4 linked regions of the Homo sapiens genome follow. The protein of the gene in region 3 interacts with the protein of the main gene of each other region in a pairwise test. Each region holds a gene or a part of one and is shown on either strand. Other genes may lie near its edges. The genes, in order: MICOS10-NBL1, RNASEH1, NCS1 and C1QTNF2.

Region 1 (7,064 bases), on a different chromosome or scaffold from region 3:
TTGTTGCTTGAAACCATCCCATGATTACCCACCAGCCTATGCCTAGTGAGCCCTGGAAGCAATAGATTTTTAAGGCAGAGGTGCTGAATACGCAGAAAGCATGTGAAAAAGTCAACAGGCAACTCAAACACCTCCAAGATAAAATGGAATCTCTCTAAGACATTTCACAGTTCTGACTCCACCTAAACCAGCCTCTCTGCACTGAAATTAGGATGCCTGGGTTCTAATCCCAGCTCCTCCACTTCTGGATATTTAACCTCTCTGCGCTTCGATTTACTCCTCATAAAAATCCAACTTGACCTTTGCTTAAGTTCTTCTTCCATCCTACCTGACTATTCAATCCCAAGCCATTCTACAAAGGTCAGTTGAAGGCCCTTCCACACTCTTATTGAATGACCTCAGCCCATCCCTTCAGTCACTTAATATACAACCCTACAGCAAAAGAGTCTGAATCACTCATTTTAACTTATACCTGAGATCGTACATCACCTTGCCTCATTTAATTACTCCACATGTATATGCTGCACCCCTATCAACGTTCTACGCATGAGAGACAGAGTGACACTATTCACTGCCTCACGTGGTCTTCAGTAGCACAATAATATTAATATCAACAACTATTGGCTGGGTGCAGTGGCTCAAGCTTGTAATGCCAGCACTTTGGGAGGCTGAGGATGATGGATCACTTAAGCCCAGAAGTTTGAGACCGGCCTGAGGAATATGGCAAAACACCGTCTCTACCAAAAAATACAAAAATAGTTGAGCATGGTGGCACACACCTATAGTCCCAGCTACTCAGGAGGCTGAGGTGGGAGGATCACTTGAGCCCAAGGAGACAGAAGTTGCAGTGAGCCGAGATCCCACCACTACACTCCAGCCTGGGTGACAGAGCGAGACCCTATTTCAAAAAATAAAAAACAACTACTATGAGTGTGGCGCATTGGCTCATGCCTGTAATCCTGGCATTTTGGGAGGCTGAGGCAGGAGGATCGCTTGAGCCCAGGAGTTAAAAGACCAACCTGGGCAACATAGGGAGACCCTGCCTGTATAAAAAAAATAAGTTAATTAAAAATAAATATAAATAAAATACATTAAAAAATTTTAAAAGCCAGTTATTATGACTACCATTACTGTATACATAAAGCACCAGGCACTGTGCTAAGTAGCTTATGTATTTTTCTGTCCTTTACTTTTTTTAATACTTTCAGGTAAATCTCTTTTGATCACCATTTCGTAGTTGAGAAAGAGACTTTACCCAAAGCTACAAAATTAGTAAGGATGGGCGAGAAGAGTGAGAGTGGATGATTCGAACTCAGCTCTGTCTACCTCCAAAGCCCCTTCTTCTTCTTCTCCTTTTTTTTTTTTTTAAGGGAAGGGTCTCACTTTGTTTCCCAGGCTGGTCTCCAACTCCTGATCTCAGGCGATCCTCCCGCCTCGGCCTCCCAAAGTGCTGGGATTACAGGCCTGAGCCACTTCGCCCAGCTCAAAGCCCTTTCTTAACTATATGACATTGCCTAGTAACTACTTTGGTCATTTCATAGCTAGGTGTTAAGTCTTCTCTCTGAACTGCAAGCTGTTAACAGTAACAAAACAAAAGTGACTGTTTAGTCGCTTCCAAAATAACCCATTCCTAAGTGATCCATATTCAAGCCTTTAAACAAACTAACTCATTTAATCCTCCCAACGACTCCATGAGATAGTAATAATTATTACTGCCGATTTCCAAATAGGAATCAGGCACAGAAAAGTTAAATAACTTGCCCCAAATCACTTGACTGTAAGTGCTGAATTCAGAGGTGAAATGGTAACTTATAAACTGTTTCATTTATTGACTCACTCTCAACAATTTTTATTAAGCACTCTTTTAGGGGCTGGGGATGGGGCAGTGACTAAACCAGAAAACATCCCTGCTCTCATGGAGCTTACAATCTTATTCCTCAATGTTTTCATTCAAAGACACAATCCTAAATCCTCTTAAATACCCTAAGATTACCACACAAAAATATCACATTTGGGTAACAAAAATTAGCATCGAAGAAGGAACATGGGACTTGACCCCAGAAAAGCTGGGTAAAATCCCTAATTTTGCCATTTGTTAGCTGTGACCGTGGGCAAATTCCTTCACCTGACTCTCCATTTCACGGCCTGTAAAAAGATTATTTCGCACAATGAAGACAATATACGCTCAATAAACGAGTTTCCTTTCTCCTCCCCACCATACAGTGACTTCATAATTTGTGCCGTCACTGAGCACGTGTTAAAGGACTACGCAGAAAAACTTAACGTGAACAACTTCTTACTTTCCAGCGCAATTCTCATTCCAGATCATCACCCCTCTAAGTTCAGGCCCCAGACTACTCTGATTCAAATAAATCAGGTGGCAAGTCGGGAATGACAGCAACTCGCATCAGGGCCTGGCGGTGTCTATGAAATGCTCCAGGTGACCTTCTCCAGAAGGCACTTTGGTTTCCGCCGGGGAGCAGCGTGGCCTCCTGAGCCGGTTCCCCGCCGCGTGCCGGGGAATGCACCACCCGGGAGGAGAACCCCGCGGCTCCGGCACGAGGGTGTGCCCCGACACTGTCTTCCACTCAAGAGCTCTGCGACTCTCCTGCCACCTGCCAACCCCGACCACCTCCTCCGGGCTGCAACTCCACCCCGCACCCGGGCTGCTGCTCCGGCTCCTCGGGTCTGTGCCCGCCGCCCGAGTGACCTCCCGCCGGGGCCCGGGCGGCTCGCCCTGGCCGGAGGGGCCGGAAAAGGCCGAGAGGCCTGACCTCCCGTGGGGCTTCCCTTCCTTCCTCCTGGGCAGCGCAGCCTGGAGCCAGCAGCTCTGCACCGGCCGGGCCTGCTGGGGCGAAAAGCCCCTTACCTATCTTCACGACCGCATCCGCCAGACACCGGTCCCACTTCCTGCCGAGCTCCGACTCAGACATGTTCCCCACCCGCGCCTCCAGCTTTCCTCTCGGCCGGCCCCCGCGCTCCGACCCCTGAAAGTCTCGCGAGAGCTGGAAACAAGTCCCAGGTCAGGAAGGCAGGCGCAGACGCTCCAGATATCGCGAGATGATCCGCTGCTTCCATCCCTTCCGGTTTTTTCAGTTGGTCGTCAAGGTGACGAGTTGTCTGGAGGCTCGAGGTGACCCTGACCTTGGGGCTGCGCCTATGGGTTTGCGAGGCTGACAGTTTCCTAGGCGTCACCCCAAGCCGTGACCAGGCCTTTCCTCCTCACCAAAGTGCGACATTGGCCCTGGAAATCCCCCGGGCAAGAGAGGGTACAGACTTGATTTATTCATTCATTAACGTACTCACCTTCACTTTCCCTACTCACTCTCTCATTCGTTCACTGGTTTCTTGCATTGGAATTCCCGCCTGAACCACTAACACCGAAACTGCTCTGGGAAAGATTACCTACCGCCAAATCAAATGGACTCTTTTCTGACCTCTGTACCGCATTCCACACAATTTTCCCTCCCTCTGATCCTCCCTGGCTCCTCTATTCGTTTCACTCCCGGTAACGCCACTCTTTCCTCTTCTCCCCATCTGCTGTTGTCTGTTGGTTTCCTCCAGGGCTGCCTTTTCTCTGCCAGCTGTTTAAGGACTGTTGGTTCGCAAGCTTCCATCAATTCTCTTTTCACTGTACAGACTCTCCCTGAGTAATTGCAAACACTGCCAAATTATATCTCCAGGTAAAACGTCTACCTCAGGCCTCCTATCCATGTATATATTTACACACCCACCCACACACACACACACATACACATACATACACAGGGTGCCCTCTGTATCTGTGGGTTTTGCATCCATGGATTTAACCAACCATGGACCAGAAACATTTTTGAATCAAATAAAAAATAATGCAAAATTTAAAATACAGTACAACTATTTACCTAGGATTTACATTGTATTAGGTATTATAAGTAACCTAGAGATGATTTAAAGTATATGGGAGCCAGCGCAGTGGCATGCGACCGTAGTCCCAGCTACTTGGGAGGCTGAGATGGGAGGATTGCTTGAGACTAGGAGTTCGACTTCATCTCTTTAAAAAAAAATAAGTAATTTTAAAAAAGGATATGTAAGCATGTGTGTAGGTTGTATGCAAATACCACGCCATTTTATATATGGGACTTGAGCATCCTGCATTTTGGTAACTGCGAGATCCTGAAACCAAATGCCCACAGCTATCAAGAGAGATTGTATATCCAGCCTACTGGCTAGTGTCATTGATTTTAGTCTTCCATCCTACCAACAAATAGAAATCTGACCACGTTATGCCTCTGATTAGAAGCTGTCAATGAAGGCCGAGAGCAGTGGCTCACACCTGTAATCCCAACACTCTGGGAGGCTGAGGCGGGAGGATTGTTTGAGGCCAGTAGTTCAAGACCAGCCTAGGCAGCATAGTGAGACTCCTGTCTCTACAAAAAATTTAAAAAATTAGCCAGGCTAATGTGATGTGTGCCTTTAGTCCCAGCTACTTAGGAGGCTGAGGTAGGAGGATCACTTGAGCCTGGGAAGTGGAGGCTACACTGAGCCATGTTCATGCCACTGCACTCCAGCCTGGGCATCAGAGTGATACCCTATCACAAAAGAAAAAAAAAAAAAGCTGTCAATGACTCCCATTCATACACTGGATCTATCCAAGCTTCAACACTGCACTGATTCTAGGAAGCCTAGTCAGATAGAGCTTAGAGCTGCCTTCCCCTTCTCATTGTCCCACTACCCTGCCTACCCGCATTGATTTCTCTATCTAGTACTGAAACATCTGGTTGTAGATATTATCTGCTAGTAGAACTAGAAGTTGCCCCTTCGTCTTCATACTTCCAGTCAGAGCACAATGCCTTGGATAGTAGGGTCTTCTATGAAATATTTGTTGAACTGAATTGAATTTATTCACCTATTTATTTGTTTATTTATTTATTGAGAGAGAGTCGCGCTCTGTTGCCCAGGCTGGAGTGCAGTGGCACGATCTCGGCTCACTGCAACCTCTGCCTACTGGGTTTGAGCAATTCTTCTGCCTCAGCCTCCAAAATAGCTGGGATTACAGGCGCCCACCACCACGCCTGGCTAACTTTTTGTATTTTTTTAGTAGAGATGGGGTTTCGCCATATTGGCCAGGCTGGTCTTGACTCCTGGCCTCAAGTGATCCACCCACCTTGGCCTCCCAAAGTGCTGGGATTACAGGCATCGTTCAACTATTTATTTGCAACTATGACAGCAAAACTCTGTTGTATCAGATCTTGCTACGACAGCCTCTTCCTTCAAGATAACTTCTATGACCACCCTTCCCTTCTCCTAGTTCTCTATTTTTTTAAATTATTCTTTCTTTTTTTTTTTTTTTTTGAGACAGAGTCTTGCTCTGTCACCCAGGCTGGAGTGCAGTGGCATGATCTTGGCTCACTGCAACCTCTGCCTCCCAGGTTCAAGAGATTCTCCTGTCTCAGCCACCTGAGTAGTTGGGATTACAAGCACGTGCCACCACCCCCAGCTAATTTTTGTATTTTTAGTAGAGATGGGGTTTCACCATGTTGGCCAAGCTGGTCTTGAACTCCTGACCTCAGGTGAACCACCCACCTCAGCCTCCCAAAGTGCTGGGATTACAGGCTTGAGCCATCATGCCCAGCCCTATTTTTCCTATTCTTTAAATTTTTCTTTGCTTTTCCTTTTTTATAGAGGTGAGGTTTTGCTATGCTGCCCAGGCTGGTCTCGAACTCCTGGGCTCAAGCCATCCTCCCACTTTGTCCTCCCAAAGTACTAGGATTATAGGCCTGAACCACCATGCCCAGCCCCTTCTAATTCTCATCACAGCTACTTATCAGATGATTTGTGTTTTTAATAATTGTTTGTAATTTTAACAATTATTTGTGTGTCTTTTGGATTTTGACTGTGAGCAAATTGAGAATGGAGGCCGTGCCATTTCTGTATCCCTAATGCTTAGCAGAGAGCTTGGTATATATCGGATTCTCAATAAATGCTTGTCGAATGGACATAAAAATTAATAAATAAGGCCGGGCACGGTGGCTCACGCCTGTAACCCAGCACTTTGGGAGGCCGAGGCGGGTGGCTCACAAGGTCAGGAGATCGAGACCATCCTGGCTAACACGGTGAAATCTTGTCTCTACTAAAAATACAAAAAATTAGCTGGGCATGGTGGCGGGCGCCTGTAGTCCCAGCTACTCGGGAGGCTGAGGAAGGAGAATGGCGTGAACCAGGGAGGCAGAGCTGGCAGTGAGCCAAGATGGCGCCACTGCACTCTGGCCTGGGCGACAGGGCAAGGATCTGTCTCAAAAAAAAAAAAAAAAAAGAATAAATATATGAACAAATGATTTAATTAATCAGAAAGAGAAAAAGTCCCTGTTCTGGGGAAACTGTGTAGTGTAACATTTCTGTTGAAAAAGAAAGAAAATAAACTTCACTAAAATACCTATCACATGGCTGGGTGCAGTGGCTCATTCCTGTAATCCACTTTGGGAGGCCGAGGCAAGAGGATCACTTGAGCCCAGGAGGTCAAGGCTGTAGTGACCGTGATGGTGCCACTGCACTCCAGCCTGGGTGACAGAGCGAGACCCTGTCTCTAAATAAATAATACCTATGGTGTGTCATAAATAGCTGCAGGCACTTCGCATAATTTCATTTATTCTCACAGCAGGTCAAGATTAGCATCTTCGTTTTCAGATTTGGAAACTGAGTCTCCGAGAAGTTAAGCAACACAGAAGATGCACAAAGCTCCACGTTGTGTAGATTTAAAATTGACAAAGGCATTTTTATTGGATTCAAGAGAGTTGTAAACTCTTGCAAAAGGTAGAGAGCAAATTACAAAAGCAATCAGAGGCAGATGTGATAGCATGAATCTGGAGCCAGGCTCTCTGGGTGCAGATCCCAGCTTTCCCATTTCCTAGCCTTCTTTCTATTGTTCTGTTTTCCCACCATTCCTTCCCCAATACAATGTTTTGTTCACTGCTATATCCCTAGCCCTATAAGATTATCTCACACATAGTGTCTGCTTGATAAATATTTGTTGGTTGAATGAATAAGATGAATGAAAACTCTGGAGTTTTTGTACTTCTTGAAGA
Region 2 (7,968 bases), on a different chromosome or scaffold from region 3:
GCCTTCCTTGCCCCAACACCTTGTCTCTCAGCTTATTGGCTGTCATGCAGTAAGCAGTAAGAACTGTCACATCGATGAGCCTTTTTCACGTGTCCTCATTCTCAAACAGAATCTCCTTTAAAAGCTATTGAAGAGAGAGAGGGTGAAGCAGATGCACTGAGTGAGGGTCGACCCTGCTTTGCAAACTAACTCTTCAGGGATCCATTCTGGACACAACCTGCCTCGCTCTGAATTGTGCTTTGTCCAGGATTGTTACGATGATTCGAAGGAGCAGTTGTTCAGGTTCAAGCATCTCAGTGGCCTCTAGAGAGGCTGTTCAAGATAAGGTAATTAAAACTATGCTCTGCTCAGTCTTAATTTGCTATAGTAAAAAGTTTGTAAGTAACATTCACGTAAGATCACCTCCTCAGTGTAGATCCAGAAATATTTTTAAAATCTTGCGCTCTAAAGTCGTCACCCTGCTCATCTGAGTCTGCATAATGGGCTTTAAACTTCCAATTATATTGGGAATTAATCTTATATTGGGCTTTAAACTTTGAATAACCGTACTTTCTATAACACATAAAATTGGAAGAAATTGGACAGGCGTGGTGGCTCATGCCTGGAATCCTAACACTTTGGGAGGCCAAAGCAGGTGAATCATTTGAGGTCAGGTGTTTAAGACCAGCCTGGCCAATATGGTGAAATCCCATCTCTACTAAAAAAAATACAAAAATTAGCCGGGCGTGGTGGCACGCACCTGTAATCCCAGCTACTCCGGAAGCTGAAGCAGGAGAATCGCTTGAACGCAGGAGGCAGAGACTGCAGTGAGCCAAGATTGTGCCACTGCACTCCAGCCTGCGCAACAGAGACTCTGTCTCAAGGAAAAAAAAAAAGAAGAAATTCAGATTGTGTGACTCTGTTCTCAATAAAAAGGCAACACCACAAAGGGGCATGCCATGGAAAGAACCACACTCATTCCTGTAAACTGTAGCCCATCCAGTCCAATAACTATGTAAGTTTTTTTTTTTTTTTTTTGACGAGTCTTGCCCTGTCACCCAGGCTGGAGTGCAGTGGTGCAATCTCGGCTCACTGTAGCCTCCACTTCTCGGGCTCAAGCAATTCTCCCACCTCAGCCTCCCGAGTAGCTGGGATTACAGGTGTGCGCCACCATGCCCAGCTAATTTTTGTATTTTAGTAGAGATGGAGTTTCATCATGTTGGCCAGGCTGGACAAGTATTTTTTTAAAAAAAGACAAGGAATTATGGCATAAAAGGCTGAATGGAACAGGAGAGCTGAGTCCTGGCTTATCCCTAATACTGTAAGTAATATGAACCACTATTTGTAACTGCTTTCAGTCTGTTCCCTAATTTGTAAAATGAAAACAATCACACGAGGTTCCCTACATGCCTAGAGGGTAGCTATATAGATCAAATGCCATCTGGCATATGAAAGCCTTTGAATAGGTTAAAATGTCACACTGATATGAGAGGTGACTACCTTCTGAAACTTCCGGGCTTGCAGATTTCCTGACAAAGGCCCAGGCCTCATCCTCTGTGGCAAACTTCTTAAATCTGGCAGCAGGAAACCGGTCCACCTGTGCTCTGCACTCATTCCTGGAAAAGATGTGCAATGTTATTTCCTTCTTCCTTCTCTAACTTATCCCCTTTTTTATTGAGATTCTTAAGGTTGGAAATACAGTTGTCCCTTGGTATCTGAGGGAGACTGATTCCAGGAAGTCCTCCACCCCATCACAGATACCAACATCAGAGGATGCTTAAGTCCTTTGCATAAAATGGTGTATTTGCAAATAACCCACACACATCTTCTTGCATGCTTTAAATCATCTCTAGTTTATAATACCTAATACAATCTATATAGTTGTATTGTCTTTTTATGCGTATTTTAAAACTGTATTCTATTTTAATTTTTTCCAAATATTTTTGATCTATGGTTAGCTGAAACTGAGGATGCAAACTGGATATAGAGGACCAATTTTTGCGTGAAAAGGGCAGAGTCGCACCTTATAGTTTTATCCTGCACGTCAGACTCTACACCTGTGTTCTACTGTATGCCAGCCAGCCAGCACACCAGCACCATAAGGCTTTCGTCAAACTCAAAGCATAACAAAATACTGCGGTCTTTGAAAAAAATATTAACCATTTCTTTACAACAAAAAGGTCAACTTCTGAGATGCTTCTTCCTCAATACTGTAGCTGCCGTGCATGGGGAAACACAGGTAACGAACTTTGGTATCTTGTAGTGGGAAGAGTTCTGGTGGTACAGTCAGAACAGCTGGGCTCAAGTCCTTTCTCTGTCAGTTACATGCCCTGGGAACTTCCTGACCCCAAGAACTATACCTGAAAGTGAGAATAATCCCTCTCACCTCCAAGGGTTGTTACAAGGATCCAACTGCAAATACTGGCTTATTAGAATTTGCCTTTTTTAAAAGGGAAGATTAGGTACTGAGTTCCAATCCCAATTTAGCTGGTACGGAAAGTCTTCTGGTAACGGGGGTTCGTTCTGATTACGTGTCACTTTTTGTTGCACTTTAACTGCAACAAAGATGGAGGATTAAACACAGGGTTTATTAGGCCACCCCTAACCTTTACGCGACGTTTCTGATATTTCAAACAAGTCTTCGGTGCGTTCCAGTCCCAGGCCATGAGCCTCCTGGAACCCCGCCGGCCGAGCAGGAAAACGAGGCGGTCCCCCGACCACCCACAGCCACAGCGCGCGGCACAGACTCGGACCGCCAGGCTCCCGCCGCCGGGGTTAGCCGGGCTCCGGCCTCCCTCGACCCCGATGCCGGCAGGGAGGCGCCTCGGCGGGCGGGCCACTCACCAGGTCAGAAAGACCCCGGTCTTGCGGCCCCTCCTCACGGCATAGAACATCCCGAACCCGCGAGAGCCGCGGCGGCAGGGCAAGGCGGCCAAGGCGACTCTGTGGGCCAGGAACAGAAGCCAGCTCATCGCTCACTCCCGGCACCGGGAAGCATTTCGACTCCCGGCCCAGCGTGGGCGCGAGCCGCCGGCGCTCAACACCGCACTTCCGTCACCGGCGCGGGAAGATGACGCACGTCTGGGCGGAGTCCTGATGAGGGCCGGGGCCTAGGGAGGGGCGGTGTCGTAGGGCGGAGCCCGGAGCTCGGCCCCTGACGAGCCCGAACTCGTCAACTTCCTGTCGGTACTTGAAGAAGCGGAGCCAGGGCTGAGATCCCGAAGGCGGGCGAGGTCTGGGATGGGGCGGGGCCTATGGGAGCGGGGCTGAAGCCCTGGGCCCGGCAGAGGAAGGTCGAGATGGACCATGTTGGGCCCCTTCTCTCCCCGCCCCCAGGCCGCAGTTCGGGGGCCACGCCCCGGCGTGCTCGGGTCACCGCGGGAAGCCCTTGAACCCCCTGGCGCCCGGCACCCACGTGCGGTAACCGCGGCTCCTCGAGAGCTCCAGGGATGCGGATCTACAGTAAGGGCTGTGGCCAGATGAATGAATGCACATTTTTTAGTGGGCAGAAAGATGTTAGAATTCATGAATTAGAATAAGCACAAAGGAGGGCGAGAGGGGAGGCCGTGGAAGCCGCATTCCTCCCCTTGCCTTGGGCGCCCACCCCCGAAGGGGCGCGTCCCCTCCCTGCTCCACTGCACGTGGGTGTTTAACCAGGGGATATCCAGTGCCTCAAGCACCACGACCCGGGAGAAAACTGAGTTGAGAAGGTAACTTTTAGAATTCTCCCCATTTGACCTTTTGCTCTGTAAGCAAATCAAGTAATTTTAAAAGTGTTCATGGGTTGGAGGGGCGTGGTGGCTTACGCCTGTAATCTCAGCACTTTGGGAGGCCAAGGCGGGTGGATCACCAGGTCAGGAGATCGAGACCATCCTGGCCAATATGATGAAACCCTGTCTCTACTAAAAATACAAAAATTAGCCGGGCGTGGTCGCCTGCGCCTGTAATCCCAGCTACTCAGGAGGCTGAAGCAGGAGAGGCGCTCGAACTCGAGAGGTGGAGGTTGCATCTGGGCGACAGAGCGTGATTCCGTCTCAAAAAAAAAAAAAAAGTCTCCATTGGCAAACATTGTTATTCGAATTATTTTTAAACCACTTTTCTTTAATTTTCTTAAGGTCTTCTAACAAGCCTTTTGCACACCTGCCATGTATTTTGTCAGGCCTTGGGGATGAAGGTGAGAAATTCGAGAATCCCCGGAGATAACACATCAGCAAATAGTGCGCAGGCAGAACAAGCTGTTGGAGGTGAGAGACACAGAGCAGAGAAGCACCCGCACCTGGAGAGTCAGGAGGGCCTCACATCAGAACGCCTGAGCAAATACAGTTTTGAAGGATACTAATTTTTTAAAAAGTTCATTCACATGAGTTAGACAAAGAGAAAGAAGCAGGACATTCTAGGAAGAAGGAACGGCCCAGGCAAAAGCGACGCGTACATTGGCGTGGTAAGTTGTGTTCCTCTGTGAAATCGAAGAACATCTTTTTTTTTTTTTTTTTTTTTTTTTAAACAGAGTCTTGCTGTGTCGCCCAGGCTGGAGTGCAGTGGCACGATGCACGATTGGGGCTCACTGCAACCTCCACCTCCCGGGTTCAAGCATTTCTCCTGCCTCAGCCTCCCAAGTAGCTGGGATTACAGGCGCCCGCCATCACGCCTGGCTAATTTTTATGTATTTTTAGTAGAAACAGAGTTTCACCATGTTGGCCCGGCTGGTTGCGAACTCCTGACCTCAAGTGATCCGCCTGCCTCAGCCTCCCAAAGTGCTAGGATTACAGGCATTAGCCACTGTGCCTGGCCAAAGAACATCAATTTTAAACATTTCAGCTTTCCTAATTTTAATTTAAATTGGCCATAGCTTTCATTCCTCATTCCTACCTATTGCACTTCAAGACGGATTCTTATTTTAAAATAAAAAGACACACACAGCTGTCCCTAAAGTCCATTTATGACTGATCATCCTACCCTTGTGTAGATATCTGAGGAAGCCCAGAGATGCCCGGGAAGGCTCTCAGGATGACCTGACAGCTGCCCCCACCTCGTCAGCATATCTGAGGGTTGACCTACCAAGGGCTTGCTTTTCTGTGCCCACTGGCTGGTCCTGTATCACAAGGACTCATCTTCCCTGAGAAGTCCTAGGTTGGAATTACCTGAGGACGCTTGCAGGATCATCCACATGACTTTCCACAGTGCCAAAACCCTCTCTCTTCCTTCTTCCTTCCTTCCTTCCTTCCTTCCTTCCTTCCTTCCTTCCTTCCTTCTTCTTTCCTTCTTTCGTCTTTTCTTCCTTTGTTCTCTTTTCTTTCTCCTTTCTTTCTTTCTTTTCTTGTTTCTTTCTTTTCTTTCCTTTTCTTCTTTCTTTATTTTCTTTTCTTTTTTTTCCGGGTCCTACTCCAACGCCCAGGCTAGAGTGCAGTGGCATGATCTTGGCTCACTGCAACCTCTGCCTCCTGGGTTCAAGCGATTCTCCTGCCTCAGCCTCCCGAGTAGCTGGGATTACAGGCATGCGCCACCACGCCCAGCTGATTTTTGTATTTTTAGAGACAAGTTTTCACCATGTTGGTGAGGCTGGTCTTGAACTCCTGACCTCAAGTGATTTGCCCACCTCGGCCTCCCAAAGTGTTGGAATTACAGGCATGAGCCACCACGCCCGGCTGCCAAAACTATTTATTTTGACTTTTCATTGACTGGTTACTCCTGAAAATCTTTTTTTATCTTAATCTCTGGCTCATAGAAATATAGGACATTTCTTATCCTGAGCAAACACTGGATCAGAAATCAGAAGATGAGTGTATATGTGGTCTCAGTCACTTAGCTCCTTTGAAACTTAATTTTCTCTACTGAAAAAAAAAAATGGGAGTGATAATTCCCACTGCAAAAGGCTTTTGTTTTGAGGATGAGATTTTAGATGAAATAATAAATGTATGCATAGCCTATTCCTGACACATGACATAAACTCAAATAAAAGTCACTATTGCCATTATCTATTATACTCTGTAAATTAGGAATAACAAAACCATTTCTGCTTATTTCTCAGGGTCCATTCAAGAATTGTGCCCACAATATACCAGGCACTTGTCCAGACCTGCATCGTCCAATGCCCACCTCGACCTCCCAAAGTGTTGGGATTAGAGGCGTGAGCCACCGCGCCCTGCCTGCATGTGGCTATTGAGATGTGCTGTATGATACACACCGGACTTTGAAGACTCAGTGTGAAAAATAAAAAGAATTTTAAGAGGGGTGGGGGTCGAGGGGAGGCAGAGCAGTAGGACAAATAGCTAATGCACGCAGGGCTTAAAACCTAGACAACAGGTTGATGGGTGCAGCAAACCACCATGACACATGTTTATCTATATAGCACCTACATGTTCTGCACTTGTATCCTGGAACTTAAAATTAGAAAAAAAAAATAATAAAAGCCAACATGGCATTCATTACTGCCAAAAAAATTAAAACACATTGTTAATTTTGTATATTGATTACAGGTTGAACTGATAATATTTTGAATATATTGGGTTAAAGAAATACATTTAAAATTAGTGGCTAGGCACAGTGGCTCATGCCTGTAACCCCAGCACTTTGGGAGGCTGAGGCGGGTGGATCACCTGAGGTCTGGAGTTCGAGATGAGCCTGGCCAACATGGTGAAACCCCATTTCTACTAAAAATACAAAAATCAGCCGGGTGTGGTGGTGAGTGCCTGTAATCCCAACTACTTGGGAGGCTGAGGCAGGAGAATCGTTTGAACCCGGGAGGTGTAGGTTACAGTGAGCCGAGATTGTCCCACTGCACTCCAGCCTGGGTGACAGAGTGAGACTCCATCTTAATAATAATAATAAAACTATTTCTTGCTGTTTTACTTTTCTAATGTGACCACCAGAAAAGTTTAGATGGCTTGTGTGACTCTCATCATTGAACGGAGCTGTTCTAAACATGGGTAAGACAACGCAGAGCTTCGGTTGCAGGACAGAGAATGAAATAATAGACCCATAAGACAGATAAGTGACTGATTGTGACTGCTAGGGTGTTTACAGCATAGGCCGGTGACAGGAACGAGGAGTGTGGGGATGAGAGCCGACGTGGGCGAGAGTGCATGCAATGCAGGGTCAGACGTTGGATTCATCTCTCAGGAGTTGAAAAAGGTGGCGTTCCTGTTCTTTATTGGCATTGCTTGTGACACGAGGATTGCCCCTCTTCCTGAAGAGGTTGGTCAGGAAAATTTTTTGTTAACTTTTATTTTAGGTTTGAGGGTCCATGTGCAGGTTTGTTTCATGAGTAAACTCATGTCATGGGGGATGGGTGTACAGATAATTTCATCACTGAGGAATAAGCCTAGTACCCGATGGGTATTTTTTCGGATCTTCTCCCTCCTCCCATCCTCCACCCTCAGGTAGGCCCCGTTGCCCACCGTTCCCCTCCTAATATCCCTGTGTTCTCGCTGTGGAGCTCCCACTTATAAGTGAGAACACGCGGTGTTTGGTTTTCTGTTTCTGCCTTAGCTTGCCTCCACCTCTATCCATAGTGCTGCAAAGGACATGATCTCGTTCCTTTTTTATGGCTTCATGGTATTCCACGATGTAAATGTACCACATTTGCTTTGTCAAGTCTACTGTGGATGGGCATTTATGTTGATTCCACATCTTTGCTATCATGAATAGTGTTGTGGTGAACATACACCTGCATGTGTCTTTATGGTAGAACGATTTAGATTCCTCTGGGTATATACCCAGTCATGGGATTGCTGGGTTGCATGGTAGTTCTGTTTTAAGTTCTTTGCAGAATCACTATGCTGCTTTCCGCAATGGTTGAACTAATTTGCACTCTCAATATTATATTGTCTATAGCTGAGAAAGCTGAAATGTAAAGATTAAGTCACTTGTCCTCAGACATGTAGACAGGAAGTGGTACAGCCAGGACTCAAACCTGCCTCCAGAGCCCGTCCTCCTAAACCTAAGTCATGGTTTTCAAAGTGTGGTCCTTGGATCAGCAGCAAAAGCACC
Region 3 (6,425 bases):
AGGCCTCGCAGAAACACTCCTGCAGATTTTTCTGGTTTAAAAGTATACTCAAGGTTCTCACTTTGCACATTCTTTCTCTCTCTTTTTTTTTTTTTTTTTTTTGAGATGGAGTCTCGCTCTTGTCACCCAGGCTGGAGTGCCATGGTGTGGTCTCAGCTCACTCCAATCGCCGCCTCCCGGGTTCAAGTGATTCTCCTGCCTCAGGCTCCCATGTAGGTGGGATTACAGGCGCCTGCCACCACACCCAGCTAATTTTTGTATTTTAGTAGAGACGGGGTTTCACCATGTTGGCCAGGCTGGTCTCGAACTCCAGACCTCAGGTGATCCGCCCAACTCGGCCTCCCAAAGTGCTGGGATTATAGGCATGAGCCACTGCACCCGGCCTACACATTCTTTCTCTTCAGGAAACTGGGAAGACAACACCCAAAGCCAGAGAAAGGGTGTCACAAAGGGAAGAAACCTAAAACGAAACGGAGAAGAATGTAAACAGACAAAGCAACAGGCCCACACAGGGAGGCGAGGACAAGTCCAGGAAGCGTGTTTAATTGGCGTGACATGGACGACATACAGCAGGAGCTTGGGGAGGCTGGGGCATGCTACACGGCCCCTGTCCACCCCTGGGCCTCGCCCTGACCCTGGCCCCAGAGACACACACCGGCAGGTTCAGACAGGACGGCACCCCAAAAAGAGACTCAAAGGGGGCTGGGGAGGCAAGCAGGAAAGGAAATAACCACAACCAGAAGACATTGCCTTTTGTTTGTTTGTTTTTGCAAGCATTATACCAATTTCTCCCCCAAGTGGCAGGCTCCGGGTGGGAGGCAGCAGCAGTCCAAACCGCTACTCTTGGGCACCGTCCTCCACTTCTGTGAGGGGCTTTGATGATGACACTCACATTTGGGTCTCACCAGGCCCCTGCGAGGCAGGCCCAGCAGAGACTCTTGCTCCCATCCAAGGGATGGGGAAATTGAGACCCAATGAGCAGAACTGACTTGCGCAAAGTCCTGAAGGAAGCCAGCCACCGAGTCAGGCTGGGAGTGAGGTGGGCCTCCCTGGGGCCGGGAGCCACTGCAGGAACAGGGACAACAGGGAATGTGCAGACTGGGGAGGGCGACTCGGGGCTACCCCATCCTGGAGAAGGGGCAGAGCCTGAGCCTGGATGCTAAGATGCCAAGACAGAAGATGGGACCAGCTGTTTATTCAACAAAAGCCTTTTATTCATTCAAAAATTAACCATTGGGTTTATTCCGCAGATATTAAAAAAAAAAAAAAAAGAGGGGGGCAAGGCTTCCCATCACAGTGCCCTTAAGTTAATTCACTTGCTATCCAGGGATGGCCTAGCAGAGGGGTGTCTGGGAAACGCTGCCAGAAATGTGGTGGCCCAGGGCCTCTGAGGACTCACAGCCCCCTCCTCGCCTCCCCGCTCCAGCCTCCCTCCGGACCACCCGTCCGGTGGGGTTGCAGCCCCCAGGTGCGTTGGCGGCTTACCACCACCAGGGGGCGCGCCGCGCTTCCTTAGCTCCCTTAAAATTAAATGCTGAAACCGCGCTGGGAACAGGGTGACTTTCCGCCTGGCGGGTGGGCAATGGAGGCTTTTTCCAGAGACAGCCTGCCTCTCCAGGAAGGGATCCCAGGCATCCCGACCTCCCCACCAACCCCCTCCGAAAAAACACAAAGTTCCTGAAACCCCAGGTGCACTTGTCTAGGAAACGGGCTGTCAAACTGAAAAGCATTTCAGGGGAAGAGATGTCAGTACAGAGGGTGACACGTACGCTTGCCTTGATGTTATTTTAAACGTGGCCTGCTTAGATCATGGAAAATCGGAACATTCTCCTAAGTCACCATCAACACAAAGTGAGGAGCAGACGCTACGAGGAAGAGGACAGGCCGTGGCCGACTGGCCGCCTGGGGCTGGTGCCTGCCCTGGCCCCAGTGCGAGGCTCTGCAGAGGGACTATGGGCGTGCCCTCTGCATCAGAGCATCTGAAGCGAGCCGCATTGGGTGGCAAACGCCGCTGTGGAGAGGCGCACGGGCTGCTCAGGAGGCACCTGGCTCAGGATTCTGCGGCATCACTGCAGCCAGAGGCCTGGGGAGAGGAGGGGGCAGAGATCGGTCCCTGCCAGGCAAACTCTAGTGAAAATGGCCAGTGTCCAGCACCCCGCCAGGGCCGGGAAGGGCGGCCCTTCCGGCAGCTCTGGGCTGGCTCGGGCTGTGGGCCCACCGGCATGCTGGGCTGCGGTCCGCAAGCATACCATCTGCTAAGGCCAGAAGCCACACCTGTGGCTTCAAACCAAAAGGCCAAAGGGCAGGACGATGGAGGAAGGCCGGACACACCGAAGGGGTCCACATGCTTAAGCCCAGACACCCTCAGCCACAGGTCAGGTTGTACAACAGTGTCAGTCCCATTGGACCAGAGAGGCAAATCGAGCCTCAGGCAGAGGCCAAAGGAAAGTAATTTGACCTGGGAAAGACCTCCCTCATCCTCTCAGCCCAAAGCCACCATGTTCGTTCCCTGCCCCAGACCCCAGGTCAGAGCCCAGCTGAGAAACTTCAGCCGTTGGTGCTGAGTCCCAGGTCGCCCGGGCCAGCAGCTGAGCAGGGAGCCGACTGGCAGGGGCCTCAAAGAATCCACCCTTCAAAGTGGCCTGTGAAGGTGGAACCACTGACCCCATCCCTGCAGGATGTTGGTGGGGGAGGGGGGGTTACCGTGGGGCCAGCGTGCAGTCCTAGGGGGCTGCCAATGAACGCCTCAGGGGGGACGCTGGGGTTGGCTGAATGCTCCAGCCAAGGGGAACAGCCACGCAGCCCCACACGGCAACGTCACTACGGCAGAGGCCTTCCTCGGGCTGGAGGCCTGCTTGCTGAGGGTGGGAACCGAGGACCAAAGTGTCCCCTCTAAAACATGGGCTGATGGGCTGTTGACTCTGCAAAGCAGCAGCAAGAATTCTAGACCCAGGCCTGGCCCTGACAGTCTGGGAAGCGGCTTCTCACCTCAAGCCTTCCCTGTGCAAGGACTCCTTCTGGGTCCCAAAGAGCGCTCAAGGGTCTGGGGGGAACCAGGAAATGCTGCGGGAAGGGACAAGGTGTGCCACATGACACATTCATCTGCTGGAACTGACCCCACACACCAGCAGCCACGCAATAGGGGCTGTGCTGTGACTCAGACAGTCCCTCGGGCTGCTGGGGTCAAGCAAACTTAACCACAGCATCACCAGCCACAGGAAACTGAACCCCAGGCCTAGAGTGACATGATGTCGGCATGGAAAAGGGCCTTCAAGACCAACCAGCCCGGGCCTCCTCGCTCTGCAGATGGGGCAACTGAGACCCAGAGAGGGCAGGAGGCTGCCCACAATCAAAGAGCAAGGGCCGGACCTTGGGCTCCTACCTCTGGTCCAGGGTGGCCTCGCATTCCTGGTGATGGTCCTGGGGCCGCACCTGCCTCAGTGGCAGGCACCGCTGGAAGCCTCCGTGAAGACATGTGGGCCGCAGCCCCAGGTGTAGGGACTATATTGATGGGATTGCCTGGAACTCTTCTCTCCTTCCCTCCCTCCCAGCCTTTGAGCCAAGAGAAGGCCAGGGAAGGACACCATGCAGTTTACTGGAAAAAGCAGATAGGAAGGAGGGAAGGCAGAGCGGGAGAGAGTCATGAACTATCTTGAAATCCCCTCCCCAGCCCAAGGAGGCGGGGGTCCCCTTGATTTCTGCTAACTTACTTCAAAGACCACCTCTCCTGACTCTGCCTGGGTACCCAATGCCCCTTCTTCCAGCTCCCAGCCTTAGGCGCCCTGTTTTCCATGCTGCGGCAAACACCAAAGCAAGAGTTGAGAAACCTAAAGATGTCCCCTGTTCATCCTCGGAAAAAATGTTACGGACCCAGGGGAGAACAAGGATGCGGGGACAGAGGCAGCAGGGAAAAGGGGTTTGGCAGGAGGCATTCGGGCTGGAGGGAACAGTGCATTAGCCATTTAGGAATTTCCACCTCTCCCCTCTCCAAAAATCAAGCACAGTATCTGAAAAAAAAAAAATTTTTTTTGGCTTCTTGGCCGCTGCAGGCCACCATCCTCCCAAGTCGGCGTGGGCAGGTGGGTCAGGGCGTGCACATGTAAACGGTGGGCCCGCAGCCCTGGGAGCTGAGGACACACCAGGCAGCAGCAACAGTTAACAACCAATAAATTAAAGATATCAATTATATATGTATATAAAAAAAAACCTCACTTTCCCCACAAAAAGCACAATACTGTTATCACAAAAAAAATCATCATCCTCATAATTAATCATCCTAGCCACGCAGGTGGTTTTGCTGCCAAAAGATGGGACGACAAATAACGTTGACCAGGCAGAACCCCTAGACACCCTCGGCCCACCCACAGCCTCTCCGGCTGCCGAAGGACGAGGGACGAGGGCAAGGCAGAGTTCTCTGAGGTCCCCAGGCCTTCACCCCATCTGTCAGTCTGTGTCTTCTAGGACAGAAGGTAGTTGTTTTTTTTTCTTTTAAAACGTCTGTTCAAAATAAAAAACAAAAGCACACGCGCAAGAGAGCGGGAGGAACGGAGGCTGCCTGCGAGGCAGCCAAGTCCTTGGTTTATGCAGAGGGCTGTAGCCTTTTCCATTTCGTGTTGTCGTTTTCCGGACAAGCAGAGGTTGCTGGCAATTGGAGCCGGTGGCTTCAGGCGGGGGATGGGTGCAGGACAGGGGAGAGGAGAGCCGGGGCCTCCCGGGTCAAGGGCAGCCGGCTGTGTGTGGATGCGGAAGAAGGCTGGGTGGACGCACGGGGTTGGTGTCAGGGCTGAGGTGGCCTCATGGCACAGAAGGAGGTGAGTGGTTCCCAGGCATCTGGAAGACACAAGGAGGCAAGATGGGTTAAGATCCAGCCACAGCGGATAGGGGTTAAGGTCTGGCCACGGAGGATAGGCACAGAGAGCTGGCAGGAAGGTCGATAGATGGCAAGCTGGCATTCTATGTCAGAAGTCCTAAAAATGTGCATAACCTCTGAGGCACCCTTTGGGTTTTTTGGTTTTTTTTTGTTTGCTTTTTTTTGAGTTGGAGTCTTGCTCTGTCACCTGGGCTGCAGTGCAGTGGCATAATCTCGGCTCACTGCAACCTCCACCTCTTGGGTTCAAGCGATTCTCCTGCCTCAGCCTCCCAAGTAGCTGGGATTACAGGCGCCCGCCACCATGCCTGGCTAATTTCTTTTTGCATTTTTTAGTAGAGACAGGGTTTCACCATCTTGGCCAGGCTGGTCTCGAACTCCTGACCTCATGATAGACCCGCCTCGGCCTCCCAAAGTGCTGGGATTACAGGCGTGAGCCACCGTGCCCAGCCTATATTTATCCTTAATAAATAAATGTTTACCACTGCACCATCTGTAATAGCAGAAAACAGAAAACAAAAATGGAAGCAGAGAAAACAATCTAAGTGTCCAGTATCAGAGGAGTGGTGGGATACATTAGGACACACCCACAGGATAAAACAGTTTACAAACCATTAAAAACAACACATAGAACAGTCGATAAACACATGAAAAGATGCCCAACATCCCTAGTCATTAGGGAAACACACATCAAAGCCACAGGGAGGGCCAGGAGTGGTGGGTCAAACCTGTAAATCTAGCACTTTGGGAGGCCAAGGCAGGAGGATCGCTTGAGGCCAGGAGTTCAAGACCAGCTTGGCCAACACAGTGAAACCCGGTCTCTACCAAAAATACAAAAATTAGCCGGACGTGGCTGCGCACACCTATAATTCCAGCTGCTTGGGAGGCTCAGACAGGAGAATGACTTGAACCTGGGAGGCAGAGGTTGCAGTGAGCCGAGATTGCATCACTGCACTCCAGCCTGGGAGACAGAGTGGGACCCTGTCTCAAAAAACAAAAACCACAACAACAACAAAAAACCACAGTGAGGCAACCACTTCACACCCACTAGGATGGCTACCTTTTTTTTTTTTTTCATGGAAAATAACAAGCGTTGGCAAGGATGTGGGAAACTGGAACCTCTGTCCTTTGCTGGTGGGAATGCAAAATGCTGTCACTAGTTTGGAGATCAGTTTGGTGGTTCCTCAAAAAGTTAAACATAGAGTTAACCATATGACCCAGCAACTCCACTCCTAGGTATATACCCAAAGAACCAAAAATCCATACTCAGGCCAGGTGAGGTGGCTCATGTCTGTAATCCCAACCCTTTAGGAAGCCAAGGTACGCGGATCACCTGAGTTCAAGAGTTCGAGACTAGCCTGGCCAACATGGTGAAACCCCATCTCTACTAAAAATACAAAAATTAGCTGGGCGTGGTGGTGTGTGCCTGTAATCCCAGCTACTCAGGAGACTGAGGCAGGAGAATCGCTTGAATCCAGGAGGCAGAGGTTGCAGTGAGCCAAGATCACGTCATTGCACTCCAGCCTGGGCAAAAAGAGTGAGACTCCACCTCAAAAAA
Region 4 (6,850 bases), on a different chromosome or scaffold from region 3:
ACTGCAGATACCTTGATGATGGGCTTCCAGCCTCTAGGGATCGTGAGAAATAAATGTCTATTGTTGCAGCTCCCCAGTCTGTGGTGTTGTCACGGTGCCCCACGCTGACTAGGACAGAGAGCCTGTGTTCTACAGTGTCCACAGTCCTCACCACTCCCAAATGTCATGCATCCCATTCCTATATACATTGTGCACAGTCTCTGTCAGTATCTGGGTTTGCAACCCCTAATCTAGAGGAAAAGAGTAATGATTCTCCATGTATGTTGTGTGTTCTTATTTCAAAGTTTTGATGTTCATATCTCCTTTAAATCTCCCCACACTTCTAAGAGGCTGATACTGTCATCTCCACTTGGCAGAAGAGAAAACAGAGCTCAGAAAAGGGAAAAATTACTTTTCCTAGGTCAATGTTTGGGTGGAACTCAGGCCTGCTGGCTCAGGGCCCAGAGCTCATGTTCCTCCACCATGGCCCCTCAGCTAACAGGGGAGTTACTAACAGGGCAGTGATGTGTATGCGCATGTGTATGTGTGTTATAGGAGTAAGCCACTTAACAGAAGTGAACAAATCCAGGGGAAGGTTATTTGCTTGAAAAAATATTTGGCACATAATTCCTTTCAAAAGAAAAGCTAGAATGGGCTGGGCGCGGTGGCTCATGCCTGTAATCCCAGCGCTTTGGGAGGCCGAGGCGGGCGGATCACAAGATCAGGAGTTTGAGACCAGCCCGGCCAATATGGTGAAACCCCGTCTCTACTAAAAATACAAAAATTAGCTGGGTGAGGTGGTGTGCGCCTGTAGTCCCAGCTACTGGGGAGGCTGAGGCAGAAGAATTGCTTGAACCCAGGAGGCGGAGATTGCAGTGAGCCGAGATTGTGCCACTGTACTCCAGCCTGGGCAACAGAGCGAGACTCCTTCTCAAAAAAAAAGAAAAAAGAAAAAAAAGAGAAGCTAAAATGGAATATAACTAACAGAAGTTTGATTTATGCAAGAGTTCATCTCACAGAGGTAAATTAAGGTTGGCAGGCCTTTGACCAGGAAGAAGGAGTGGGTGAAGCTGTGGGTGTGGAGAGAGACTCTGTTACCCCACAGTGAACATTTAGGAGTAGGAAGCATCAGTGATTGAGACAGCAGGAGAGACTGTCTGATCAGCAGGGTCAGCATAAGAGAAGGAATAGCGAGACAGGGGGGAGGAATAGGGAGATTTGCAGAGGAAAAAAGTGACACCTTGGAGAACTTGCTGAACATTCAATGGAGACAGAGTGGCTTCAAACGTGACTCCAGCCTTGTGAAAAATAATCTCAGTTCATCCATACAATGACACACTATGCCCATTAGAAGAACAAAGTAAGCCTGTATATGCAGATATGAAAACATGGCGAAGACACACTGTTAAGTGAAAAAAGCAAGTTGTACCATGGAATGTAAAGTATGCTTCTCTTTGAGTTTAAAAAAAAAAAAAACAGCACAAATACAGAGTATATATATGTACAGAAGGGTTGGGGAAATACTTTCCGAAAAGACACAATCTTGTTAAGGGGTTACCTTTCAGAATTGGGAGGGGGTGTGTGGGCTTTTACTTTTCTCTTTCTACCTTTTTGAACTGTTCGAATTTCTTGTGATGAGCGTCGTTACTTTTATAACATTTAAAACAAAAGGTAAACCTAAGGTTTAAGGATTGGAAGACTGGTAAGTGTGGTATCCCTGCTAGGAGATGGGGAGAAGTCAGACATTTGGGAGGAAACAAATTCTGCAGTGAATCTGATGTGTTACAATGAAGGGCTGTAGTGATGCTTGGAAATGTGTGGAGAGTTTGAGGATCGGGCAGTTGAAAGCAGGAGTAATTGATATAATTACTCCAGATGACAGAATAAATTAGAGAATGGTGCAGAGGGAGGGCAAAAATAAGGATGTGAGAGGACAGATTTTTAACAGTGCTAACTGAGCACCAGCCTTGGATTGACCTATGTAAGACATTGTCTTTCTATTACTGCTACTTCAGCATGGTGGAAACACAGGGTCTCTGAGAGATGGCCAGTCTAAGGAAGGGACCTCTGCAGGCTTCCAAGCAGGGCAATTTTGTGGTCAAGGAGCAGAGGAGGATCACAATGAGGTAATGCAAGGGACTCATGGTGTCAGAGGAGAGACCTGGGCTGGGAGACTATTAGGGCCCACTGCAATTATTTAGCTGAAAAGCGAGGTCCTAGAATGGGGCAGCAGCAGTGGGGATGGAGAAATAAGGACAAAGCATATTAAGACAAGTAGTTTAGGTGGGGAAGGAGAGTGAAGAGAGTCATGAGGCATTGAGTACAAATCTCTGCCTGCCGTTCAATACCTTTTGAGCTCAGTTTGCCAGTCTGTATCATATATTTAAATAAATGTGAAGGTTAAGTGAAATAATGCATTCAGTAAATGTTAACTGTGATTGTTAGCTCGGGTATTGGACTCAGATTTACCAGACTTCAAGTCCCTTTTTTATCAATTACTAGCTGTGCAACCCTGTCCAAGTCATTAATGTCTCTGAGCCCAGTTCCTCTTTTGTAGACGGGGATAATCTGTTGTCATGAAAATGAAAGAGCACAAGTAAAGTGCTAGCAGGACTTGGCACAAAGTAGGCGCTCAATAAATGGCAGAGCTACGGGTGTTACTATTGTAACGGGTAAACCACTGGGCACAGAGCCTGGCACACAGTAAGGACTCAAAACATGTTAATTTGTATTATAATACGAAGGTAGAAGTCGAGAGGCAGGAATGCAGGAGCTGCCCAGCCCGCAATAAAGGCGCGCTGGCAGCTCTCCCACCTTCCGCATCCCGCCCCGCCCGCAGCAGTGCGAGTCCTCCTCCTCCTCCTCCCCGCGCGCACTTGCCGCCCCCGCCCGACCGCGGTGCGGGACACTCACCCTCGCGGCTGCCCGCCACGTCCAGGGGCGTCCGGAGCAAAGAAGCTCTCGGCGGGGCTCCGCGTCCCGGCTTTCCTCAGCGGCAGCAGCCGGGCAGAGCGTCGGCCCCAGGCATAGTTTTCCCATCCCGTCATGGGCGGGAGAGCCTTCCTCCCGGTCACGTGGGCTGGCCCGCAGCGCAGCATTCTCTTTTTAGCAGCTGTTTGGAAAAAACTTGCAGTGCTGATGACAACTCGGGTGTGTCGATGCATCTCTGCGTTTGTAGAGCTTGTTAGCGTATTTGGAGGTTTTGTGCGCCAGAGTGATCAGAGTGATTGTTTCCCACGCGTTTGCAAAGGTGTGCATGTACTTGAGTGTGATGATAAATCATAGGGATGTGTTTAGTTGTGTGTGTGCGTACGTGCGTTTATCCAAATTTTCATCAGGGCTGTTCGGTGTATGTACACATGCATGCACATGTCCAAGATGGCAGCTTGGTGTAAAACTGGAGGGCACATCAGTGGTTGGATGTACACGATAGTGGCTAGACATCTGTATGTGGGGTGCATGTTTAAATGTGTGTGTGACTGTGCAGGGGCTCATTCTGTGTGTTGGTTTGACATCTGTATGTGGGGTGTATGTTTAAATGTGTGTATGACTGTGCAGTGGCTCATTCTATGTGTTGATTTCTATGCATGCCTTGGTGTGGATTTTGTCCGGATGTGAGTGTGCACATACACACTAGTGTGGGTGAGTTCCCCTGTGTACCAGCTCTCATTTCTCTTCTCCCCAGAAGGTGAGGATTCACTGGTCTCACTCACTCTGGCCCAGCCTCAAGTCATTGAGAGACTTATGGAGGGTCTCAGCTCCCAGGATAGGCAAAGCAATCCTATTTGGGAATCAAGCAGGCACTGGAGGAAAGGAAATCCTCCAAGGCCTGGCTTTTGCTTCTCCCTGTTCCTTCCACTGCTCTCTTCCACTAGCTACCCATATTTCACTCTGCACAGCCAGAGCATCTGGTTAACAGCTGGTAAGTGACACAAAATTTACAGTCAGAATTTTAATACAGATATGCATTTGAATTCTAATGTTGTATCCACCACCTTAATCAAGTCAGATAATCTCACAGATGGTGTTTTATTTTCTAAAAAAAATGGGAGAATAATATTACCTGCACTGCCTTTACCCCAAAGTTGGGACACTAACTCATAAAGATGTTTGGTAAGCCATTGAACTATGTAGGGAATTATTACTAATATCACATAAATACTATTTGAGAAAGAAAGTTTGTAGGCTTAACAAACATTCATTCAACAAATATTTAATAAGCATCCATTGTGTGTCAGTCCCCAAGCAAGGTGCTGGGGACATAGAGGGAAACAAATAGGCTTGATGCCTACCCTCATGAAACTTAGAGTCCTCCAGCTGGGGATGACACAAGTGGTTACAAGTGAAATGAGTGTTATAGAAAAGAAAAGCTTAAAGTATAAACTGGGCAGTCAGGGGAAGGCCTGGGAAACTGATGTTTCAGGTGAACCCTGAGAGATGACTGAGACTTGTCTGAATGTAGGGGAAGTGTGAGCTCAAAAAATGAAGGAATGATAACATGTGGAGTGGAGTTTAGGGTGTTGATACACAGATGGCTGGAAAGGAAACTTCCATCCACCGCCTCTTGGGTCAGATGTGTCAGCAATTGGAAAGGTGAGGAAACTGCTTAGAATGCCTGGAGGCCATTCAGAATCTAAAGGGCTCAGGAAAGCCCCTCTCCTAGAGTAGAGTGGTAATATCTGTGTGTTATCCATGTGGCTCCATCATGACAGAGGTTGAAATCACTGGCATGCTCTCATTGGTTAAAAAAAAAAGGTTAATGAAAAGTTAAGAAAGGCAGTGCTGCTATACCTGGTAGTGTGAAACATTTAATAAACACTACTGATTGAATGAATGGGGGCACATGTTTTTCCAACTTTTGAAGGATACCTGGAACCTAGGTTTCCTGAAGCCTAGCAGAGTTCCTGGGTCCCTGTCCTATGGTTCCTTGCAGTGGTGATGGCTTCATGTAGCATGCAATCCAAAATACTTGTCCGGTGGCAGTTCCACGAGCTGCAGGAACTGTGTCAAGCTAGAATGGGGCTTAGAACTTCCTCTCCCTAGCCTCTCTCTGTCTTTACTCTCTGCTTGAATTCAGTCTACGAACATTTGTTTGTTTGTTTGTTTAAGATGGAGTCTTGCTCTGTTGCCTAGGCTGGAGTGCAGTGGCACAATCTCAGCTCACTGCAATCTCCACCTCCCGGGTTCAAACGATTCTCCCGTCTCAGCCTGCCAAGTAGCTGGGACCACAGGCGCGCAACACCACACTAGGCTAATTTTTGTACTTTTAGTAGAGATGGGGCTTCACTATTTTGCTCAGGCTGGTTTTGAAATCCTGGCCTCATGTCATCCAACTGCCTCGGCCTCCCAAAGTGCTGGGATTACAGGCGTGAGCCATTGCACCCGGCCACAGTCTATAAACATTTATTACCTATTATGAGTATGGGGACAAAGAGATGAACTTCTGAATGAGAACACAAATTACACCAGGAGGCAAAATACAATTAAGTGCCATAGGAAAGGTGCAAAGTGTGAACATGAAAGAGGAGGATTTTCCCCTTCGATTTCATTCAATTCATTTCACATCCATTCACATCTAGAGAACATGCTAGTATCCACCTAGAGAAGACGAATGATATTATGACATTGATGGCCACAGAGCGGGGCAGCCATGAGGCAGATGTGGCAGATTGGCTTGTTCCACAATTGTCCAAACTTTTCTTGGTGTGCTTTCCTATACAACAGAGACTAGAAAGCTAAAAATCCATTTCCTAGACTCCTTGCTGTTGGGGCTCCCATTATAATTTAGGTTTAGCCAGTCCTGTGCACCTGGGAAAGACCTGAATTCAAAATTGTGTTCAGAAAAACAAAAAACAAAAACAGTTATGTGAAGAGGAGGTAGCAGCCTGGGAGGAATCCACTTTGCTGGTGGTGACCTGGAAGATGCAGTGTGACTCTAGAGTTCTGCCAGTTCCTGATCCCCAGATTACACCTAAGATGTTGTGTTCTTGTAGTCAGACTAGGCCAGTCGCCGGCCTCCTGATTGTGGCAGAAGGCCACATCCCTTGGGGTGGTGGGGTTAGTACGACGGCAGGTTTTGGGACTCATTCCTGCAAGCCCAAGCCAGAACTTGTTCTGCAATGGTTCTGAGTCTATTTGATTCTTTTTATTAAATTCATGTCTGCTTAAAATCCTAACTGACATGTCATGTTATGAACTATAGGTGCTGTGAAAGTCAGGGAAAGGAGATGAGTGTGGATCAGAACAAGCAGAGAAGAAATCTAGAGGACTGCCTTCTTTCCTCTTTCTATCCACCTCCTATGCTCAACCCCATTTCAATCCTCCCATCAACCTTCAGATTAATCATTGATTAAATATCAGCAACTACAATGCACCAGGCACTCTGCTTGATGTTGAGCTCACAGTGATGAATGAATAAGGAAGGTCTCTCCTTATGAGACAGATGTGAAACCAGCAACCAAATAAACATATAATTCAAAATTGTGGTGAAAATAAGAGGGAAACATGGGAAAGAATAACGGTATGAAGTCTGTGAGATAACCTACTTTGATTGAAAAGTCTAGATGATCTCTTCAGTAGGTGATATTTAAGCTGAGTCCCAAAGGATAAAAAAGGGCTAGTCATACAAAGGTAGCCAAGGTGAGGAGTGGTGCCAGGCAGAAGGAGCAGGGTATGTACAAGCTACCTTAGTCCTTCTAAATATCTTTCTAATGCTTCCCTGTGTAACAGAGGATAAAGCCTAAACTCAGCCTTTTTTTGTTGAGGGGACTGTCCTATGCATTGTAGGATTAGCAGGATCTCTGGCCTCTACCCACTAGATACTACCTACTAGTAGCAGCCCTCCTCGACCCCAGCTGGGACAACAAAAATG

What was found.
Region 1: the proteins of NCS1 (region 3) and MICOS10-NBL1 interact in binary tests that used the Homo sapiens proteins (3 or more experiments, as listed by UniProt).
Region 2: the proteins of NCS1 (region 3) and RNASEH1 interact in binary tests that used the Homo sapiens proteins (3 or more experiments, as listed by UniProt).
Region 4: the proteins of NCS1 (region 3) and C1QTNF2 interact in binary tests that used the Homo sapiens proteins (3 or more experiments, as listed by UniProt).

What each region holds. Positions count from the first base shown.
Region 1 is NC_000001.11:19,592,915-19,599,978, reverse strand, and holds the start of MICOS10-NBL1 (neuroblastoma suppressor of tumorigenicity 1 isoform a precursor), read right to left. Parts: upstream 3,001-7,064; 5' UTR 2,934-3,000; coding exon of another isoform or gene 2,870-2,933; intron 1-2,869. Other genes in the region: MICOS10 (MICOS complex subunit MIC10), read right to left, coding at 2,870-2,933. UniProt on the Homo sapiens protein: Possible candidate as a tumor suppressor gene of neuroblastoma. May play an important role in preventing cells from entering the final stage (G1/S) of the transformation process.
Region 2 is NC_000002.12:3,555,310-3,563,277, forward strand, and holds the start of RNASEH1 (ribonuclease H1 isoform 1 precursor), read right to left. Parts: upstream 3,025-7,968; 5' UTR 2,952-3,024; coding exon 2,824-2,951; exon of another isoform or gene 2,586-2,823; intron 2,535-2,585; exon of another isoform or gene 2,366-2,534; intron 1,596-2,365; coding exon 1,480-1,595; intron 1-1,479. UniProt on the Homo sapiens protein: Endonuclease that specifically degrades the RNA of RNA-DNA hybrids.
Region 3 is NC_000009.12:130,231,395-130,237,819, reverse strand, and holds the end of NCS1 (neuronal calcium sensor 1), read right to left. Parts: intron 4,831-6,425; 3' UTR 517-4,830; downstream 1-516. UniProt on the Homo sapiens protein: Neuronal calcium sensor, regulator of G protein-coupled receptor phosphorylation in a calcium dependent manner. Directly regulates GRK1 (RHOK), but not GRK2 to GRK5. Can substitute for calmodulin. Stimulates PI4KB kinase activity.
Region 4 is NC_000005.10:160,367,620-160,374,469, forward strand, and holds the start of C1QTNF2 (complement C1q tumor necrosis factor-related protein 2 isoform 1 precursor), read right to left. Parts: upstream 3,008-6,850; 5' UTR 2,893-3,007; intron 1-2,892. UniProt on the Homo sapiens protein: Involved in the regulation of lipid metabolism in adipose tissue and liver.